Linked DNA regions of Homo sapiens: region 2 is linked to region 1. The links come from fine-mapping of genetic effects on gene expression. Tissue or cell type: hippocampus. Region 1 holds a variant in brackets; the other region holds the start of a gene. All regions are shown on one strand. Distances are between the middles of the regions.

Region 1 (8,106 bases):
CCTTCTTTGATCTTCTTCCCCTTCTTTTCTTCCCCTTCCCCTTCTTTTCAATTTCTGCAATAAATTCAGACATGGACAGACACATTAAGCTGATTCCCCTACACACATAACAATCCACTGTCTAATCCTCACACAGGGACCTCAGGCTCCTCAGCATAAGAATAGGACACTGTGAGAGATATATTTCAGGAGGCCTGAAGGCTGGTCATGATAGAAATTCCTTGGTTTTTCTCCCAGAAACTGTGGGTAAAGTGTCCCTATTCTAGTAGATCGTTATCTCAATATCATTTGTCCCAAGTTTGTGCAAACAGTTACGCCATATTTTTCCAATCAACTTAAAGCAAATACCCTCAAATGATTTCTAGGAGAAAAACTGCAATATTTAGCCCTGTCTCATCAAATACTCAGATTGTTCATGGTTGTGAGGACTTTAGACACTGAAATTAGAGTGAAAAAGGAAATCTACAAACCCTTGAGTCAAAATCATAGTTCTCTGAATTTGTCACATCTGCCCAGGTCCAATGTCATGAGAATAGGATCAGGGCGCCACAGGTATGGCCTGAGACTAGGAAGAGAGTCTTGCTCACTGACCCATCCCTTGTCTGGGCTTCCAGGTAGAACTAGAGTTTCATTCAACCTACATGTGCCTATAGGTCCTCCCTGTGGCAATGACATCTCTCAGCTCAGTAATGGCCACTTGGAGCAGGAATATGATCTTTATATGGAAGACTCAGTGGATTCTTATCACCTTCATAGAAAGGTACTCACCTCCCACGTCAAGAGAAAAGCCAACATGTTTTTCCTCCAATGCATAAAAGGAACTTCCATAGGGCTGGCAGGAGTCAGGCTGTTCAAGACAACTGGAAGGAGTTGAATAACATCTATCCAGTGAGTCCTGCAAGACTTCAGGCTCTACTACCTCCAGCAGCTCCCTGCTGAGCCTGGAAAAGGAGGAAAAAGTAAAGAATAAGCCAGGGGAAATCAGACACAACAGAGCCCCAACTAGGTTTCATGGGTAGCATAGGGAAGTGGTTAAAAAACTAAAAGGATAGATCCATTAATGAGGTAACAAATTATTGCCTTCATGTTGGGACAGAACAGGGCCAAATGGAAAAGAATGAAAGAGAAAGACAGATAGACACACACACACACACACACACACACACACACACACACACACACACACACAGAGAGAGAGAGAACGAGCTCAGTGAATTGTCCAGGTGACGCACTGATGAGGGAGTAACAGGACACTCTGAGTTAGTGCCCTCAGGACACACAGCATACAGGGATCATGAAAAGACTGTGCTCAATAATTTTCCATAAAATGTGCTCAAGTTTCCATGCAGTCACCATGAGAATACAGTTTTTGAAGTCTGGTCCACCTACAGTAGGTTAGTAAATGATAAGGGGAGGAAGAAATGGAAACCTAAATATCTACTGCAATGAAAACCAACAGCAATGTTAGTAGGAATAATTCAGGCTTGGTTGAAGAGATGTAATCGATAATGTCAGCCCGCTCTGTTTTCCCTGAACCAGGAGTCTCCAGATGTCAACACAGAAGTAGCTGTTCACAATTGCTCAGTTACCTGGGGCATGGTGGGCCTTGGTCTTCTTCCTCTTCTTGGTCCTTTTTAATTCCTGCAATACATTCAGACAGGGACAGACAAAATAAGCCAATTCACCTACACCCATAACAGTCCACTGTCTAATCCCCACACAGGGATCTCAGGCTCCTCAGCATGAGAACAGGACAATGTGAGAGATATACTTCAGGAGGCCTGAAAGCTGGTCATGATATTCTTTGGTTTGCATCTCAGAACCAAGGGTGAAATATCCCCATTCTGGTACATCGTTATCCCAAAATCATTTATCCCAAGTTTGTGCAAACAGTTATGCTTTATTGTTCCCATCAGTTCAAAGAAAATGCCCCAGATGATTTCCAGGAGGAAAACTAAAGTATTCAGCCCTGTCTCATCAAATGCCCAGCTCGTTCATGGATGCAAGAATTTTAGACACTGAAATTAGAATGAAGGAGGAAATCTACAAACCCTTCAGTCCAAATCATACTTCTGTGAATTTTTTACATCTGCCTGGGTCCAATGTGCTGAGAGCGGGCTCAGGTTGCCACAGGCATGGCTGGAGACTAGGAATAGAGCCTTGCTCACTGACCCATTTCATGTCTAGGCTTCCAACTGAGACTACAGTTTCATTACAACCTATATGCGCCCATAGGTCCTGCCTGCGGCAATGACGTCTCTCGGGTCAGTAAGGGGCACTTGGAACAGGAATATCACCCCTATCTGGAAGACCAGGTGGAGGCTTATCACCTTCACAGTAAGGTACTCACTGTCCACGTCAAGAGCCAAGCCAAGGTACTGTTCCTCCAATGAGTAAACAGCACTGCTGTAGGGCTGGCCTAAGTCAGGCAGTTCAAGATAACCTGAAGGAGTCGAATAACATCTATCCAGTGAGTCCTGCAAGACTTCAGGCTCTTTCTCATCCAGCAGCTCCCTGCTGAGCCTGGAAAAGTAGGAAAAAGTAAAGAATAAGTCAGGGGGAATCAGAAACCACACAGCCCCAGCTAGATTTCATGGCTAACATAAGGAACTGTTTAAAAAGAAAAAGGACAGATCCATTAACGAGGTAATGAATTATTGCCTTTATGTTGGGATAGACCAGGGCCAGGTAGAAAAGAATGAAAGAGAAAGACAGGGAGAGGGAGAGAGAGAGAGAGAGAGAGAGGAGAAAGTGAGCTCAGCGAGTTGGCCGGGTGACACACTGATGAAGGGGTCAAAGGACACTCTGAGTTAGTGCCCTCGGGACACACAGCGAACAGTGATCATGAAAAGAGTGGGCTCAATAATTTTCCATAAACTTGCTCAAGATTCCATGCAGTTGCCATACAGCCTTTGAGGTATGGTCAACCTATAGTAAGTGAGTAAATGATAAGGGGAGGAAGAAATGGAAACCTAAACATCTACTGCAATGAAAACCAACAGCAATGTCAGTAGGAGTAATTCAACCTTCGTTGAAAACATGAAATTGAACACACTCTTGTTTTCCCTGGACCTGGCATCTCCAGGTGTCAACACAGAATTAAGCATCCATAATTGCTCAAAGTTACCTGGGGCATGATGGGTCTTGGTCTTCTTCCACTTCTTGGTACTTTTCAATTTCTGCAATAAGTTCAGACATGGACAGACATATTAAGCTCGTTCTCCTACACACATAACAATCCACTGTCTAATCCTCACACAGGGACTTCAGGCTCCTCAGCATGAGAATAGGACACTGTGAGAGATATTCTTCAGGAGGCCTGAAGGCTGATCACCACAGAGATTCCTTGGTTTTTGTCCCAGAAACTGTGGGTAAAATTCCCTATTCTGGTAGATCGTTATCCAAATATCATTTGTCCCAAGTTTGTGCAAATGGTTATGCCATATTTTTCCAATCGATTTAAAGCAAATGCCCCCAAATGGTTGCTAGGAGAAAAACTGCACTATTCAGCCCTGTCTCATCAAATACTCAGATTGTTCATGGTAGCGAGGATTTTAGACGCTGAAATTAGAGTAAAGGATGAAATCTACAAGATCTACAAAATTTAGACAAAATCAGAGTTGTGTGAATTTGTCA[T/C]ATCTGCCCAGATCCAACATCTTGAGAGTAGGATTATGGTGCCACAGGCATGGCCTGAGACTAGGAAGAGAGCCTTGCTCACTGACCCATCCCTTGTCTGGGCTTCCAAGTGGAACTAGAGTTTCATTCAACCTACATGTGCCTATAGGTCCTCCCTGTGGCAATGACATCTCTCAGCTCAGTAACGGCCACTTGCAGTAGGAATATGACCCTAACCAGAAGACTCAGTGGATCCTTATCACCTTCATAGAAAGGTACTCACCATCCATGTCAATAGCCAAGCCAACACGCTGTTGCTCCAATATGTAAAAGGCACTTCTGTAGGGCTGGCATGAGTCAGTCAGTTCAAGACAACCTGAAGGAGTTGAATAACATCTATCCTGTGAGTCCTGCAAGACTTCAGGCCCTTTCTCATCCAGCAGCTCCCTGCTGAGCGTGGAAAAGTAGGAAAAAGTAAAGAATAAGCCAGGGGGAATCAGAAACCACACAGCCCCAGCTAGATTTCATGGCTAACATAAGGAAGAGTTTGAAAAGAAAAAGGACAGATCCATTAATGAGGTAACAAATTATTGCCTTTATGTTGGGATTGACTAGGGCCAGGTAGAAAAGGATGAACGAGAAAGACACACACACACACACACACACACACACACACACACACAGAGCGAGCTCAGTCAATTGGTCAGGTGACACACTGATGAGGGAGTCAAAGGACACTCTGTATTTGTGCTCTCAGGACACACAGTGAACAGTGATCATGAAAAGCATGTCCTCAATAATTTTGCATAAAATGTGCTCAAGTTTCCCGGCAGTTACCATGAGAATACAGCTTTTGAGGTATGGTCAACTTTCACTAGGTTAGTAAATGATAAGGGTAGGAAGAAATGGAAACCTAAACATTTACTCTAATGAGAACCAAAAAGCAATGTAGTAGGCATAATTCAGACTTGTCTGACAAGACAAAATCATTATTTTCAGGATGTACTGTTTTCCCTGGACTTGGCATCTCCAGGTGTCAACATCAAATTAACTGTCCACAATTTCTCAGACTCACCTGGGACCTGTTGCCTCTTGGTCCTCCTTTTTCACTTGATCCCACCGATGTCCTGCAAATAAATTCAGATGTGCCCTCTTACATTAAGTTCTTCCTTGCACACAGAAACATTCCTCTGTCCAATCCTAACACAGGGACATCAGTCTTGTCAGTGTGAGAACAGGAGACTTTCAGAGAAATATTCCAGTAGGCCTGAGGTCAAGTCTTGAGAAAACTGGCTTGGGTTCTTTCATGAGCCTTGGGCAAAATTCCCCTGTGTTGGAATGTTATCTTCCCTATGTGCTCTGTCCTAGGTTTATGTACACAAATGAGCAATTTTTTCCCCAATAAATTGTAGGCAAATAGTTCTAACACCTCATAGGAGAGATACTTCAATATTAAGCTTTCTCTCATCAAATACCCAGAATTTGATAGTTTATGAGATTGTGGACACAGAGATTTGATGAAGGGGTGCAATGTACCAGCTCTTGAGTCAAAATGAAACTTGGTTCTACACAGAAGCATCAGCTATTATGGCTTTTGTGGGTGAAAAGTCAGCCATTTATCTAGAAAACATACCAGGAACATGACGGACAGATGAGCTAAAACAAGCGAACTTAGAAGACACAGAAAATGGGAATAAATTCAGTGAAACCTGGGTCACATCTTTCACTGAGAGGTAGACAAGGGTGACACTGGCCTTGGGCAGGTAAAGAACCACACAGACATGCTTTGGGAACAAAACTCATAAGGAATTTTGTAGCTGGCAAGAGACATTTAATTCAGATGAGCTGATCTGACAGACAACTCCTGGGCATGTGCTACATAGTTTGGTGTGAGTTTGCCACACCTGCCTTGAGTTTAATGTCGTGACAGTCAGTCCAGGTTGGCACGGGCATGGCCTGAGACTAGGAAGAGAGTAAAGCTCACTGACCCACCCCATGCCTGTGCTTCAGACTTGACTCCAGAGTGACTGAAGTCTACATTGATATATAGGTTCAGCCCACGGTGATGGCAAATCTCAGCCCAACAAGGGGCACAAGGCCCAAAGATTATGGGGTCTACCTGGGCCATGAACTGGAGCTTTATCACCTTCACAATGGAGTACTCACTGCCTATGTCAACAGCCATGCAGACTTGCTGTTCCTCTAATGAGTGAAATGTGCTGCTGTAAGACTGGTACGAGGCCAACATTTCAGGAGGAATTGAGAGAGTCGAATAACCTTCATCCCAGGACTCCTGGGGGACTTCCTCCTCTTCAGACTCCTGCAGATTCCTGATGAGCCAGGCAGGACAGGGATGATAGAAGATTTAACCAACAGACATTAGACAACAAAACCTCCCAGATGATCTGATGGGAGACAGAATGGAGTGGTCACAGAAACCAAAGGCATTTTTCCTTCAAGAGAAATAAAACTATCCTTCTAAATACAGGGTGGAGGGTGACTGCTCTGGGGACAGAGCAAAAATGGGCAGCATGTGCTCAGTACATTTGCCACAGATGAGCCAACTCAGGGCACCCGGACTCTCCCTGTAAACTACCATCATGACTTGCAGCACAGAGAACTGACACAGGGCTTCAACTACTTTGCATAAATTGGGTTGAATTTTACATGCAGCATTCAAGTGAAGAGAGTTCTTGACGCAGTGCAGACACAGATCTTGTGTATTAAGGGCCCCATTTTCCCAATATTTTGATATAATATATTTACTTTTTCAATTTCTTTTCTTGCAAAAATACTAGCCAACATACTACCAACAAATAGGAAGAAAGAATATATACACCTCTCCCTGGATTTAAACACATGGGAGAGAATAGGCAACACCAAGAAATCCCTGTTTGAGGGTCTGGAGTGGACTTCCAGCAAACTCCAACAGACCTGAAGCTGAGGGACCTGACTGTTAGAAGGAAAACTAACACACAGAAAGGAATAGCATCAACATCAACAAAAAAGACATCTACCCCAAAACCCCATCTGTAGGTCGCCATCATCAAAGACCAAGGGTAGATAAAACCACAAAGGTGGGGAGAAACCAGAGCACAAAAGCTGAAAATTCCAAAAACCTGACATCCCTTCTCCTCCAAAGGATCGCAGCTCCTCGCCAGCAATGGAACAAAGCAGGATGGAGAATGACTTTGATGAGCTGACAGAAGTAGGCTTCAGAAAGTCGGTAATAACAAACTTCTCTGAGCTAAAGGAGGATGTGCGAACTCATCGCAAGGAAGCTAAAAACCTTGAAAAAAGATTAGACAAATGGCTAACCAGAATGAACAGTGTAGAGAAGACCTTAAATGACCTGATGGAGCTGAAAACCATGGCACGAGAACTACGTGATGCATGCACAAGCTTCAGTAGCCAATTCGATCAAGTGCAAGAAATGGTATCAGTGATTCAAGATCAAATTAGTGAAATGAAGCAAGAAGAGAAGTTTAGAGAAAAAAGAGTAAAAAGAAATGAACAAGCCTCCAATAAATATGGGACTATGTGGAAAGACCAAATCTACGTTTGATTGGTGTACTGAAAGTGACGGGGAGAATGGAACCAAGCTGGGAAACATTCTTCAGGATATTATCCAGGAGGACTTCCCCAACCTAGCAAGGAAGGCCAACATTCAAATTCAGGAAACACAGAGAACACCATAAAGATACTCCTCGAGAAGAGCAACCCCAAAACACGTAATTGTCAGATTCACCAAGGTTGAAATGAAGGAAAAAATGCTAAGGGCAGCCAGAGAGAAAGGTCGGATTACCCACAAAGGGAAACCCATCAGACTAGCAGCAGATCTCTTGGCACAAACCCTACAAGCCAGAAGAGAGTGGGAGCAATATTCAACATTCTTTTTTTTTTCCATATGTATAGTTTTCCTTTATTATTTTTTGTGTGTATGTATATATATATATATATTTTTTAATACTTTAAGTCTTAGGGTACATGTGCACAACGTGCAGGTTAGTTACATATGTATACATGTCCACATTGGTGTGCTTCACCCATTAACTCATCATTTAACATTAGGTATATCTCCTAATGCTACCCCTCCTCCCTCCCCACACCCTACAACAGGCCCCAGTGTGTGATGTTCCCCTTTCTGTGTCCATGTGTTCTCATTGTTCAATTCCCACCTGTGAGTAAGAACATGCGGTATTTGGTTTTTTGTCCTTGCAATAGTTTGCTGAGAATGATGGTTTCCAGCTTCATCCATGCCCCTACAAAGGACATGAACTCATCATTTTTTATAGCTGCATAGTATTCCATGGTGTATATGTGCCACATTTTCTTAATCCAGTCTATCATTGCTGGATATTTGGCTTGGTTCCAAGTCTTTGCTATTGTGAATAGTGCCGCAATAAACATATGTGTGCATGTGTCTTTACAGCAGCATGATTTATAATCCTTTGGGTATACACCCAGTAATGGGATGGCTGGGTCAAATGG
Region 2 (8,106 bases), 73 kb before region 1:
TTTCGGTTCAAACAGCCGAAGGCACTAACCGATGGCGCCACAGAGACTCTAATGGTTTAGATTTGCTGATACCAGAAATGGCATTTTAACCTCTGGCCGTAGATAATCTCATATGTTTGTAGCCTGTCCAATCCCGCGCACTCCAGAAACCCAGAACACGGGAGACATTGAAGCCAAGAGTCGAGTCTTTGGGCACTTTGGACGTTCTACCCGGGCAGAGTCAGCTGGGGGACTCCAACGGCCAAACGGCCGCCTGCTCCTCACCGTCTGCTCTTCACTGGTTCCCCCGCCTGCTCTTCACCGTCTCAAAAGTCGCCGGCCCCTCTACAGGCGACAACTGCAGCTTCTCCGGCGGAAGTCACTCGCTTTCCCATTCTTAGCCCCGCTTCACACCTTGAGCTCACAGTCATTTCCGCCGGGCCTGGGCTAGCGGACGCGCGCGTGGGAAGGACCAGAACCCGTGGTGTCCTCACCGCGTCACCCTCGGGCCCTCAGAGGTGGGATCCACCGGACAGGGACCTGGAGTTTGCACAGGCTGCAGCCCTTCGCCCAGAGCCAGCCTAGCACCTAGTAGGTGCCCAATAAATGCTTGGTGAAGGAAGGCATTCCACCGCAGGGTTTTAGGAGAACCATGAATTCCCGTGTGAACGTTAAGCGTTTAGTCCTACTAGGAAGTCTGGAATATAGAGACCTGAACTGTTTCTCAAAGGCAGCTGTTCTTGTATCCCCAGAGCCGGTTTAGAATCCAGCAAAGGCCCCTGCCCGGTGGATCCCACCTCTGGAGACCCGAGGATAGTGCGGTGGGGGGCACCGCGGGTTCTTGTCCTTCCCACGCTCACGTCCACCGGCCCAGGCCCAAAGGAACTGGCTGTGGGTACAAGATGTGAAGATAGTTACAAATACCAGCTAGTGCCAGTGCCAGTTGCAGAAATCAGGACTTGTAATAGTTATGAGTATTTCTTCATTATTTTGAGATGAATACATTTGGGTGTATATTAACCAAAACTTTTCTTGAGAATTCTCCTCTTCCATCACCCTAGCTAGCACATTCATTAATAATTAACTTTTAGAAATCTCAATATTTAGGTTACAGGAAAGCAAATATGGAATGTGATCTATCTAGCTAAAAAAGGAGTGAACATCATTCAAAGACAAAGACTTTATCCTGTTGGGGAAAGGGTTGGCATATTTTCACTGAATGAGAAAAAGTATGATTTTCATATTGTCTTTATTTGAACCTTAAGTATGATTTTACAAGGAGGAAAAAGGAGGAGGAAGAAGCAAAAGAAGAGGAAGAGGAGGAAAAAAAGAAGAGGAGGAAGATGTACATTGATGCCACTTTGAGAAGAAGTGGACTGTGGTGGATTTGTAATGTATCAGTTTTGCCAAGCTGAATGCACATTTCCCAGATTTGCCATCTTTAGATAGCTCTAGGTTAGCCTGGGCAACAGGAGACACTTGGAAGATAGAATTCGAGTGGCTGTTACACTCTTTTGTATACTGGGAAGGGCGTTGTTACAGCTCAGGCATGATCTTCAGCTTCCCTGACCCTTGGACTGGTGGGTGTTTTGCTTCTTGATCTAACATTAAGGTTAGAAGTTGCAGGATTCCAGCAGGGTTTTGTCACATCCAATCTGGTTTAAGTTCTCATATTATTAGGAAAGCTTTAGGGTGCTTCAGGAAAACGCTTTTTAAAAAATCAAATTTGGAAAATATCAAATGGAATTATAGGCAATAAGCATAACCCAGTGGAACCATGAATCAAACCCTCTAGAGCAGGGTTGTCTAAATTTTGGCTTCCTTGGGCCACACTGGAAAAAAAAAAAAGACACTTGTCTTGGGCCAAACATAATATACACTAATCGCAATTGAACTGTACCTGTAAAGCTTGTAAACAAAATGTGTCTGTAAAGTCTGTAAACAGGCCAGGTGCGGTGGCTCAGGCCTGTAATCCCAACATTTTGGGAGGCCGCGAGGCAGGCGGAAAACTTGAGGTCAGGAGTTCAAGACCAGGGTGGCCAACATGGTGAAACCCTGTCACTCTTTTTTTTTTTTTTTTTTTTTGAGACGGAGTCTCACTCTGTCGCCCAGGCTGGAGTGCAGTGGTGCGATCTCAGCTCACTGCAACCTCTGCCTCCCGGGTTCAAGCGATTCTCTTGCCTCAGCCTCCTGAGTAGCTGGGACTACAGGCACGTGCCACCACACCCGGCTAATTTTTTTTTTTTGTATTTTTATTAGAGATGGGGTTTCACTGTGTTAGCCAGGATGGTCTTGACCTCCTGACCTCATGATCCACCCGCTTCCGCCTCCCAAAGTGCTGGGATTACAGGCGCGAGCCAGTGCGCCCGGCCCGGTGAAACCATGTCTCTACTAAAAATTCAAAAAATTAGCCGGACCTAATTTTTTGGTTGCCTGAGCCTGTAATGCCAGTTACTCGGGAGGCTGAGTATTCTCTGGTTGAGGAAGGAGAATAGCTTGAACGCAGGAGGCAAAGGTTGCAGTAAGGCGAGATCGCGCCATACACTCCAGCGGACTGTTTGCTGTTAATCCCATAGGGAAAAGAAAAGCTTAGTTTTATTTCTATAGAACAACAACAAAAAAAGATAAGAGATTAGTAGAGACGGGTTCACTATATTTGCCCACACACGCCTGAGGTCGAGCGATATTAACATAAACATAACCTATCGACGTACCTCATAGATTGCTGGGATTACAAACGTGAGAACCACGATGTCCCAAATTTTTAGTTTCAGTGAAGTTACAGATGGGAACAAAGACCTGATTCTCAGCTTACGCTGACGCCCAGTATGCGTTTCTGCAGCAAACAAAACCTATTTTTAAAACGACAAAAATACAGGGGAAAGCGCGAATGCAGTCTACCACTGCCACAAATTATACAGTCAAGTTTCCCACATTTGGGGAAACTGCAGGGGTCAGCAGATCCGGAGTGCAATGGATAAGACTCGCTCTGGAAAAACCACCTTCGTGACCAGGGTATCTCTCCTGCCAGGTAAGTATGAGTTATTGCACCTCCGCCCCGCCGGCAGCCTCACACGCTTCACCCTTTACACGCACGGTCACTTGCCCCGCGCACACCCCCCTCCCCCCCAGCCCTCCTAGCCCTGACACACAGCTGGGACTCTCAGGTCCGACCAGCGGTCCTGAACCCGCTCCCACGGCACGGGAACTCCTTCGTGGCGAAGCAGCATGTGGCGAAGCAGCAGCCCCTGCGCTGGCTCATCTACATAGAAGTCGCCCTATCCGTGATGTCACCGACAGCGCCTTTCCCAGTCCCCGTCTGCCTTTCTGCCGCTCAGCCGACCAACCCGCTGCCGGAGCCGGCAAGGGGAAGTGACGTCTGCCTCTCCCTTTTTTCTCTCCTGCTTCCCTCATCTGTTCTCTTCCAAAGAAGCTGGTCCTTAGCCTGTATTGCGGAGCAAGCTTTCGGCGACCAGCTGGACCCTGGGCACCCTTCTTCGAACAATGGCTTTTAATTCTCAGACTAGAACGTTTAGGATTACAAAAGAAACTGGTTCTTTTCACATTCTTATTCTTGTGATGTAGCATTCCGCATATATATATATATATATATATATATATATATATATATGTATCCAACTATCCTAAAAGACACTACCCTTCATCATTCCATGCCATTAGACATGTATAGGACCATGCATGGTGATCTCCTCCAGACAAAAGTAAATGCTGGTGCAGAACAGGTAAGTGTACTATAATTTGAGTACATCAGCTTTTGGGCATTTTAAACCATGGGTCAGACAAGTTAGAGCAAGAGGGCAGGTTGATAGCAAGAGGGAGTGTTTTTCTTTTAATTTTCTTTTTTTTTGTTTTGAGACGGAGTCTCGCGCTCTTCGCTCAGGCTGGAGTGCAGTGGGGCTATCTCGGCTCACTGCAAGCTCCGCCTCCCGGGTTCACGCCATTCTCCTGCCTCAGCCTCCCCAGTAGCTGGGATTACAGGCACCTGCCACCACGTCCGGCTAATTTTTTGTATTTTTAGTAGAGATGGGGTTTCACTCTGTTAGCCAGGATGGTCTCGATCTCCTGACCTTGTGATCCGCCCACCTCGGCCTCCCAAAGTGCTGGGATTACAGGCGTGAGCCACCGCGCCCGGCTTCTTTTAATTTTCAAATAGCAAAGTGATGTTTGCCACTGTCATTTCAGAATGAGGTGACAATTTGTTGTTGTTTGGTTTTGTGGGGTTTTTTGTTTGTTTGTTTGTTTCTGAGACAAGGTCTCACTGTCGCCCAGGTTGGAGTACAGTGGCATGATCAGGGTTTACTTCTGCCTTGACCTCACGAATTCAAGCAAACCTCCTTACTAATCCTCCCAAGTAGCTGGGACTACAGGTGCATGACACCACACCCTGGGGTGTGAACTGGGATTTGATGTTTTCAGTTGGCTCCCTGATGGAATAGGTTCCCTTACTATTCTGGAATACAGATTGTCTTCATGATTATGATTCATAATCATAATGATTATGACAGCAGTCCCTGCTGTCAGGCAGGGACGTTTAAGTCTGCAGAAGCTGTCTGCTGCCTTTTATTCAGATATGCCCTGCCCCCAGAGGTGGAATCTAGAGGCAGTAGGCCTTGCTGAGCTGCAGTGGGCTCTACCCAGTTCGAGCTTCCCTACCACTTTATTTACACTGTGACCATAGAACCACATACTCAAGCCTCAGCAGTGGCAGAACCCCCTCCCCCTGCCATGCTCCAGTGTCACAGGTTGATCTCAGACTGCTGTGCTAGCAGCAGGCAAGGCTCCATGGGCATGGGACCTGCCGAGCCAGGCACAAGAGGGAATCTCCTGGTCTGTCGGTTGCAAAGACAGTGGAAAAAAGCACAGTATTTGGGCAGGGGTGTACTGCTTCTCGAGGTACAGTCACTCACAGCTTCCCTTGGCTAGGAAAAAGAAATCCCCCAACCCCTTGCACTTCCCGGGTGAGGCGACACCCCACCCTGCTTTGGCTCATCCTCCGTGGGCTGCATCCACTGTCCAACGAGTCCCAGTGAGATGAACCAGGTACCTCAGTTGGAAATGCAGAAATCACCTGTCTTCTGCGTCTATCTCACTTGAAGCTGTAGACCGGAGCTGTTCCTATTCAGCCATCTTGGAAGCAACCCTCTTTTTCTTTTTGTATTTTGGTAGAGACAGGGTTTCACCATATTGCCCAGGCTGGTTTCAAACTCCTGAGGTCAAGCCATTCTATAAAACAAACTTACATTTGTTTTATCTGAGTTCCTTCCTCAGGAAAGGACTCTCAGGCCTCTCAAAAAGCATCAGAGACCCGAAACTCAGCCAATCACAGCATCCAGACAATGAGATGCCAGTCCCCTCACTCATCACGAGTGCTTCCTCACCCCTCTCTAGTTCCTCTTTTCCCACACACAGTTAACTTTTCTTCTGCGCTATATAAACCCCTAACTTTAGTCAATCAGGGAGACAGATTTGAGACTCATCTCCTGTCTACTCAGCTGCAGCACCTGATTAAAGCCTTCTTCCTCAGCAATACTCAATGTCTCAATGATTGTCTTTCTGTGTGCTGAGAACACTGAAGCCCTGGGGTTTTGGTAAAAATACATGTACACTTTTAAAAACCGCAATTAATGGGTTGTGGTATATTGAGAAATTGGAGTGGCATCAACTTGGCCAATTCTGAGGAAACACACTGTGCTTAAGTGTGAGGGCCCTGCCTCCTGACCTCGACAGTTTATGGTTGATTTTGAGGCACAGCAGGGGAGTATGGCCTGGTTTGAGTGTTTTATAGAAATGTAAAACATGGCTGATTACTTTTTATTTTAAATCCAACAAATCTCCATTTCTGGTGAGAAAATCTTGCCAAAACCAACCAAACAAATGCGTAGAAGTATATGAAGAAGAAAATGAAAGATTCCCTGCCTCCCAATCCCACTTGCTTGGTGTCAGCCATTATTTATCACATGGAGGAAGGGGGCAAGACACACAGGAAGTCCCAAGTCCTGTTCTCACAATCATCTGGCCTCCCTGGGCAAAGGGAAAAGAGGGAAGGCAAAAAGAATATAACACTACTGTTTGCGGAAATTTCCCCTTGGTACAGGAAACTCTGGTAAACTGAGAGAGTATGTTTTCCAGAGGGAGGCCTCAAGGGCTCTTCTCTGGCCCTAAGCCCAAACTGGATTTTGCCTCATTTTCTGAGGTGCAAATGAAATGATAAAAGTTGATCAAAGGAGAGGGCAGAGAGAAAGAAAGAAAGAGGATGACTCCTCTCTCGCAGGTCCACCTTCCTTGGTGTTGCTTGAGGGATCAGAAGAAATGCCTTAACATAGGTGTGTGGGAACTATGGCTGCTAAGTATGAACTCAGTTACCTCCAGTTATAAGCTAGTGTGAGGTTCCATGGTGTAATGGTGAGCACTTTGGACTCTGAATACAGTGATCAGAGTTCAAGTCTCACTGGGACCTTTCTGTATAATTCCAGTGAGGTTCCTCTCTATTGCTCCATAAGCAGAATGGGGGAAATTGCCCAATCGTGGTCACAGACCCTCCATGCCACTGGCTGTGTGCAATTGGAGTCCCGGACCCAGCGACCAGCAAGACCCCTCCCCTCTCAGGGTGACCCTGGGCCTCCAGGTCACAGGTCTCCACTAAAAAGGCTGCCTCCCCTCAATCCTAGACCCCGAGTTTTCTTTTGTTCATGTCATTGGGCCATTGCCCTATGTCTCTTTGGAAGAAATGACCTATATGAAAAACTTTACTTCCAGGATTCCCTAATTCTTTCATCCCTTAGGACAGTGCAGTTTTTCATCTCCTGATCTTGGGTCCAGTACTAATGGCGCGTTTCATCTTGTTTTCATGGGATCCCCTCCAACCGGCTACCAGTGGATTCCTGTCCTTGGGGTCTCTGTGGATGACAACTAGATGCTGCTCTTGTCCCAAATCCTGACACCTCCCTCCAGGGAATTGCCTCCCTTCGCCTCCTAAATCAGCCAATATTTAGATTTGAGCCTGGAATCCCAGCATCTGTGGAGAACGGAGGTTCCTGATCCCTGGCCAGCCTCCCGCAGTGAAGGGGAGAGGAGCAGAGCAGCTGGGAGGGGCAAGTCCAGGGTCCTGGGCAACCCCCTTCTTCCTGCCCAGACTCTGCTCCAAGGAGAAGTTGCCTTAGGACCAGATCAGATGGAAACTCTTGTTCTCTTCTCATCAGCAGAAAAATTTAGGCAAGAGCTCTGGAGGACCTTCCTAGCTCATAAAAATGCTGTGGTCAAGTCTCTCCAGTTTTGGAAGTGTCCAAGGTTACCAAGTGTTTTGAGGGCTCACTTTGGAGCCTCTGAAAAGGAGGGGTCAGGGCCCATGGAAGGTACCTGAGGGATTCAGGAGAGAGAGGGGAAAGAGCAGACAGGAGGGAGGAGAGAAGGAGGGAGGGGGAGAAAGGGTGTGTGAGGGCCAGGAGCCAGGATTCACCCTGACAGTTCAGTGACTGCTCCCTGGCCCCAAAGTTCCCACTGTGGCACCTTCCAGCAGGTGGTTTCCATCTCTTATTGATGTCCTGAGAACTTGGCTCTACAGAACGGTCCCACTCTATTTGTCTGGCATGAGTCCTGCAAAGTTTCTTTTCATCGTTTGGGGGATGAGATGGGGGTATATAGGTTTGCAAGTGACTAGGAGCTAAGTCAGGACCTTGTGGAGCTGCTCAGAGTTAACTGTCAAGTAGCCTCCTTTCCCCCTTCCCTAGCAGGACGATTGCCTGCAAGACAGGGCCTGGAGGAGGCCAGGGAACCCAAGGCCACAGAAATGCCCAGGGATGAGTCCCAGCTGGAGATGCCTTGGCTAAGCTGACTGTGCACTTCCAGGGCTCACAGGGGTCTGGCCAGGAGACTGAGCAAGGGGACCAGGGAGGTTATGCAGAGGCTTCTGCACAGCAAGGCAGACATTCTTCTTGGAGCCCCCAACCCAAATCAGGTCTTCCACCTCCTCTTCCTAAAGACCCTTTACTGCTGTCGTTCTTTTACTGAACTACAAGTTTAGAGGACATGGATTTCAGTGCCCTCATCTGGCCAACCATCTTCAGCTGCCAATGGGCAAGGTAACCTCCCTCCCTGCCAAGACCTGAC

Which allele goes with the higher level. Alleles are on the strand shown, and positions count from the first base shown. SD is a standard deviation of normalised expression in the study named.
With allele T in place of C in region 1, the expression in hippocampus of the gene that starts at base 3,370 in region 2 is higher (moderate effect, 0.51 SD a copy in GTEx).

What was found. PIP is the estimated chance that this variant, and not a neighbour inherited with it, causes the effect.
Region 2: LINC01719 starts here. The variant in region 1 is fine-mapped to the expression of LINC01719 in hippocampus (GTEx, PIP 0.92).

What each region holds. Positions count from the first base shown.
Region 1 is chr1:146,122,338-146,130,443 of GRCh38, forward strand. It overlaps NBPF10 (NBPF member 10), which reads right to left. Exons shown (of 90, transcript NM_001302371.3): 12 at 5,782-5,945; 13 at 4,691-4,742; 14 at 3,899-4,071; 15 at 3,128-3,179; 16 at 2,351-2,523; 17 at 1,590-1,641; 18 at 769-941; 19 at 1-54. Among named protein-coding and RNA genes, the nearest start is that of NBPF10, 18 kb to the right of the region's middle. The variant T/C (reference allele first, on the strand shown) is at 3,637.
Region 2 is chr1:146,049,227-146,057,332 of GRCh38, forward strand. It overlaps LINC01719 (long intergenic non-protein coding RNA 1719), which reads left to right and starts at 3,370. Exons shown (of 3, transcript NR_125968.1): 1 at 3,370-3,722. RNVU1-6 (RNA, variant U1 small nuclear 6) reads right to left here and starts at 3,018; the gene lies at 2,855-3,018. RefSeq lists enhancers at 2,228-2,956, 2,957-3,688 and a silencer at 2,868-3,107.